Linked DNA regions of Homo sapiens. The protein of the gene in region 1 interacts with the protein of each later gene in a pairwise test. Each region holds a gene or a part of one and is shown on either strand. Other genes may lie near its edges. The genes, in order: SPECC1L and ECPAS.

Region 1 (2,529 bases):
ACCCCGCTTCCACTGGTGGCTGGTCTTCCTCATGGTGCTATGCAGGTGCCAAACACAGTTATATTCTCAAAGGTACAGGTCTTGTCTGGACATTGTTCAAACCAATAGCTACTGCGTTAGGCACACGGGAGATCCCTATTCCCAAAAATAGCTGTTGAGTTCTGGCCTGAGAGCATCTCCAGTGACCACCTTTAAATAAGGCTTTGGTTCAAACAGCATGGACCCAGCACCTGGGGAGGGTGGGCACAGGGGGCATGGACCCAGTACCTGGGGAGGGCGGGCATGGTGGTAGGAGACAACTCAACCACTGAGTCTTGGAGGTCCTGCCTTGGCCACGGAGGGCAGTGGCTGCCCTCACAAGAAGAGTTAAGGCACTTTCTTTAACTCTGGCCTAGGAGAATTATGTCTTAGTGACTCAGTGAGTTTAAATGACACTGCCTGGGCTCCCTAAAGTTGTTTACTTTTCTCCTATTTCCTGCTTTATTCCTTGCTCTCACCATGCTAATGTACAGATGTTGTTTAGATTTCTATGCTTATTGAAACAATGTAACTTTGGTACTAACAGAACAGGAGCGACCTTTTCCAGCATTGCTCGTAACAAAACAAAAATGTTAACTAGAAAAACTCCTTATGATGAAGAAATCTAAAGCCAGAGCTGGGACTCCAAACCCCTTCCAGGCTGGAAGACAGGTCGCTGAGTCCAGGCAAGGGGCCCCCGTAACTGCTTCCCGCCAGAAAGCCCAGCCGCGTGAGTGCAGCAGCAGCACCCCAGCCCTGGCGTGCCCGCACCACGCCCTCTAGATACTCTCCTAGCTCAGGCTGAACACGCCTGGATTGTGTCGGCCGGGACAGCCCCGTCAGGTGTGGGGCAGCTGACCCACGTCTGTGGTGAACATGCTCCTCCAAACTAGGACGGTGAAGGGCCCAGGGCGCTGGGAACTGCCAGGCGCTGACTCTCCTTCTGGGTTCTCACCAGCACCGGAACCCACCCCAGCCAATAGTCAGGAAGTGCCGCGGCCGAGCCTTCATCAACCCTAGTGAGTTTCCCACAGAACTGAATCCCTTTTCCCAAATTCAGCTGTGCATGAGCCCTTTTTGTTTGGTGCCCTGGAGCACTAGTGTAGTTCAATATTCTCTTCAGAAGGAAAACTCCAGCAGCCACCGGCCTGCAGGATGTGTGCTGAGCCCACATGACCTGAATGGACGGGTCATGTGGGAGGGGCCCTGGTGGGAGCTGTGGGCCACACGGCTGAGTTCTTCCAATACGGAAGCCCCGAGCTGGAGGCTCACACGCTGTGGGGCAGCCCAGAGTTGCTGGAAGCTTTACAGGGGTGCGTAGCTAATGGCGTCGGTGTCGCTCGGTCGCTGTGGAGGGGTACCCCCGCTATTGGGGCGGCTCCTCCCGGCATGCTCAGGTCTCAAAGTACTTGTAGATCGCCGTCACATACAGCATCACGTTCTGCCAGTCGGGTCGTTCAGTCCGTACCATTTCATTAATGTCCTGACAGACAAGGAAGACGCTTGGTTAGAACTGCAGGTCACCTCCAGGCTGTGCCAATGGGCTCTGCCATAGCAACATGGGCTCTTGGAGTTGGATGGGGCCTTGAAATATTTTCTAGGCCTAATTACACATTTTTAAAGCCTGGCCAAGAATGCTTCCTCCCTGGGCATCAGCATCGTCCCCAGGCCATCCACCCCTGCCCCAGAGCCACAGGCAAGGTGCCTCCCTGCTCACGGCTCTGCAGGATGGGAAGGGTTTCATCCAGTCTGGGCGGAGGAACTTCCTCCCTCCTCCCCGCGCCTGCCTCTCTTCTTAAACCACTCCTTGGGGGACCCTTCTGAGAGCCCTTCTCAGCCCCAGGCACTGGCCTAGGAGAATTTCTCTCTGTCGGGGGCTCCCAGAACCAACACTCTGACGGCCTTCACCATGGGCAACAGTCTGAAATCATCCAAGACTCTGCTCTGTAACTGTGCTCTGCTGAACGCCAGTGACCTGTGACCGGTGAACTGATGTTCTAGGAAAATAAACTTGGGAAACCGTGGACCCACCCCCACCTCACTCCAGTGTCTCACAGCCTTTAACACGAGACAGAAGGCCTCAAAAAGTGACACACTGCTGCTGCTGAAGGCTCGGGGAGTGACCCAAGGGGCCGGCCTGAGAGATCCTTCCCTTCCCATGGGTGACGAGCACAGGACGTGTGGCTGAGCACGCAGGATCAGGAGGGCGCCCTTGGTGACTTGATGCAGAAAACGAAAACCTGCCTGTTCAATGCAAGAATCTTGACTATAGAAGCTTTTGAGGGTGGGAAAAAGGCCTGCTTTTTTTATATATTGGAACTTTACACGTGTTGTAAAATATCCAGGAATGGGGGAATATTTAACTTATTTTTCCCTGTACAGGTGAACAGAGGCCACCCTAAAAAATGCACATTTCTAGGGATTTAGATGCACCTGTGGCATGAAGACTCTAATGAGTGAACATGGGCGTAAACACTTCTTCACAGCACCTCCAGCTGCTACAAGTTAGGC
Region 2 (3,825 bases), on another chromosome or scaffold:
GAGGCAGGAGGACTGCTTGAACCTGGAAGGTAGAGGTTGCAATGAGCTGAGATCACACCACTGCACTCCAACCTGAGTGACAGAGCGAGACTCCAACTCAAAAAAAATAAAAATAAAAATAAAGAACATTACCGAATCAACTGAACAAACTAGAATATGAACGATAAACATTTGATTTAAAAAACTGCATCCATGTTTACTACCTAAAGTTGACAACTGTACCGTGGCACACTAAATAATTGAGGAACAAGGGGGCCTGAAGTAAGCAACATACTTTCAAATGGTTCAGGAGAAAAACATGTATATAGAAGTCCAAATGACAAAGCAAATGGCACAAAATGTTAACAAATGATTCTGCATAAAGTGTATACATATTGCAGAGTATTACATGTACTGTCGTTGCAACCATTCTGTAAGTTTGAAATTACTTTCAAGTAACAATTTTGTAAAAATACTTGTCACGAAGGTTTTTCTAAACTAGATGCTAAAATCCTGTTATAGTTCCAGATTTAAATATTCCAGTTAAGGGGTACACATGGAGTATAATAAGTAGCAGAGTCCAGTAGCTATTTCAGAAATTTAGTTCCTAAGACAAAGTAGGAAATATTTGAAGCTCAGCTCCTTAGCTTTAAAATTAGGACTCCCTCATCAGTTTTAGTTTACTACACTCACCTAAAGAATATGTGATTGATTTACAAGTTTCAAGCAGAATTTCAGCCAAAGCCTCAGGATCGGCATGTTCTTCTTCCAAAAGCATTAACCTATACAAATCAGAAAGCAAGGTACAAATGCCAATTATTAAGAAACAGTCTAAAACTTTCCTGTCACAATTTCTATCTGTATGTATCACTGTCACTTTAGCTACCAGTTTTTAAATGTATAAAAATTCCATTGATTATACATAAAATGCTGCGGGGAGGAACAAAATAAAAAACTGAGCCATGAAGCAATTTACCCCTGAAAAAAGGCATTCATTGATTGCAGGACTCCTAGCTGCACTTTCCACGTGCTGAGTTTTAGCCGTTCACACATCAGTTTGCACAGCTCCTGACGATAACAACCTGGGAAAAAAAGACAAGGTGGGACAGAGCAGGAGACAGTATAAAAGAACAAGAGATGGAATAAATGAGGGACAGGCAGAGAGAGCAAGAGAAAGGAAGAGGGAAAGAGAAAGAGAGAAGGTGGGGAGGATAAGAGAGAGAAAAGCAGGAAAAAGAGAAATAAAACAATAAATACTTTTAATTAAAGCCATTGAAATTTCCCCAAAAACTTCAGCATGACTTTGTACTCAATCCCCAAACAAATTTCCTTGATCAGAAACTGCCCCCACAAAGGTGCAATATAATTGTTCACAAATATTCACTTTCAAGGCATATGGTTCTCCATGGAACTGAGAAAGCACTTTAACCACACTCCCTTTGCCCCTCAAAACTCCCTGAATGACAGCCACAGAAAGAACTCTGGAGGCCAGAAGCTCCTCTCTAGATGCTCACAAGCTTCTGCAAATTGCAGGTTTACCAAGAGTCAACAGTGCTTTATTATAAACCTGTTATGCCAACTGCAACTGTAATTATAACTATATAATTAATATTATGCCAACTGATGAATCAGCAGAAAACTCAACAACGAAGTTATTTTTAATTACTGTAGGATTTAGTAGGGCTCAAACAAATGTAAAAATGGGGGGAGGCAATAAAAAATCTAGAATTCTGCACTAGGATTGTCTCATAAGAGCTTGAAATTTCTTTCTCTGTTTTAAAGAAACAAAACCCAGAAATTGTAGATATATATGAGAAGCCAATGTGTAACAGTTAAGTTCCTAAAGAAAAGGCCTTGGTTCTCAATAAATGCACATTTCTATTAACAACCTTCTATGTCTTATATTAAAATAAACTGCTTTATGTTTGTATCATCTTTCTCATATAATTCCCTACTTTAGCTTTCTCTACCTATCAAGGAAAAGTTAATACTCTTTATGGCATCATATTAGTGGACTTCCATGGCAGTCTATAACATAATATTAAGAAATAAAACCACCTGCAAATTTGTATCTTCTGGGAAACCCTTCCTATAAACATAGCAAATATATAAGTTCACACAAAGGATGACAGGGCTCAAAGAGAACCTTAACTGATTCTAGACATATCCAATCACAAATAATCAACAGTACTTTTTATAACATTCAATAATATTGTCGCTGGGCATGGAGGCTCATACCTATAATCCCAGCACTTTGAGAGGGAGGCCAAAGTGGGAGGATCACTTGAGCCCAGGAGTTTGAGACCAACCTGGGCAACATAGCAAGACCTCACCTCTTCAAAAAAAATTTGCTGGGTGTCGTGGCATGCACTTGTAGACCCAAATACTTGGGAGGCTGAGGCAGGAAGATCACTTGAGCCCAGGAGGTAAAGGCTGCAAGAACTGCACCACTGCACTCCAGCCTGGGCAACAAAGCAAGACCCTGTCTCAAAAAAAAAACAAACAAAAAAAAAACGAATACTAAGATCTTCAGCAGGATGCACTGTAGGACCCAACACAAGGCAAGCTTAAAGGGTAGCATCATCACTTCTTGGCCTTTTGGCTAAGATCAAGTGTAAAGGGTAGTATCATCCCAAGGTTAAGGCCCTGTCAGGGGACTCCAAACTAACTGCAACCTCATCCAATAATAGAGGTTTACTGTTCATTTAATCTTTGGGAAATACATGTCCAGTTCTGAAAATTGTCCAAATAGTAATGAGTTTTTCACTGAAACAGGGATTTCAGTTGCTTACTGAACACTTGGTAACAAGACCATTCATTTCAGGATAAAGAGACCCTGCTAATAAACTTTGTGCATTCCTCTGAATAGAGCTATGATCATCAAGAAGATCAGTAGAACTCGTCTATCAAACTATCTGCATAAAATGTATCATGGTTATTATAGGTGGAACTGTGCCCCCAAAATTCGTATGTTAAAATACTATCCCCCAGTACCTCAGAATTTGACTGTATTATTATTAAATAGAAGACAGAGCCTTTAAAGAGGTCATATGAGTGGGCCCTAATCCAGCGTGCCTGGTGTCCTTATAGGAAGAGGTGATTAGGGCACAGAGACACCAAAGACCACGTGAAGACACAGGGAGAAGACAGCCATTCCCAAGCCAAGGAGAGAGGTCTCAGGAGAAACTAACCCTGCTGACGCCTTGATCTCGAAATCTCAGACTTCTATCCTCCAGAATTGTGAGAAAATAAATTTCTGCTAAGCCACCCAGTCTGTGATACTTTCTTACAGCAGCCCTAGCTACAGCGGTACAATGATCAGTGAGATCACAGACTCATGTAGACAAAAAACTTTCACTGGATAATTCTCATTATTAATCAATCAGGCTCGATAAGAAACAATAACTATAATTTGTCATAGAGAAAATTCTTCGCTCTCATTAAGTAACCTCTGGTTACAGCACTTCAAATGCAGTTTCTGGTGCTTACGTTGGGTCTCCGCGTTTCGCGGCCAGGCTTTGCCCAGGCTTTCAAAGGCACCCAGCAGATATTCCAGCTGGAGCTCCTTTTCCTTTTCATTCTCCTCTTCATTTTTGGTTGTCCGGACCCCACTGCTTTCAAGTGAGTTCTAGGATATATCAAAGAAAAGAAAATGTAATATTTTCTTCTTCAAAGTTACAGGTATACTATTAAAGCTATCAGGGTACCAACCAAGGCAGGAGATATTAACCAAGAGTTAAATGATAAATTCTCTACCATAAGTTTCCCTATTTACAACAAGAATTTATAACCAGAATACTGTATCTCTAATAAATTTAGGCAATACTTTACAGGCATCTGTAAACA

The links.
Region 2: the proteins of SPECC1L (region 1) and ECPAS interact in a two-hybrid assay, tested with the Homo sapiens proteins (one large-scale study listed by BioGRID).

What each region holds. Positions count from the first base shown.
Region 1 is NC_000022.11:24,413,506-24,416,034, reverse strand, and holds part of SPECC1L (cytospin-A), read right to left. Parts: intron 1,502-2,529; coding exon 1,412-1,501; 3' UTR 1-1,411. UniProt on the Homo sapiens protein: Involved in cytokinesis and spindle organization. May play a role in actin cytoskeleton organization and microtubule stabilization and hence required for proper cell adhesion and migration.
Region 2 is NC_000009.12:111,365,567-111,369,391, forward strand, and holds part of ECPAS (proteasome adapter and scaffold protein ECM29), read right to left. Parts: intron 3,608-3,825; coding exon 3,469-3,607; intron 1,062-3,468; coding exon 956-1,061; intron 762-955; coding exon 673-761; intron 1-672. UniProt on the Homo sapiens protein: Adapter/scaffolding protein that binds to the 26S proteasome, motor proteins and other compartment specific proteins. May couple the proteasome to different compartments including endosome, endoplasmic reticulum and centrosome.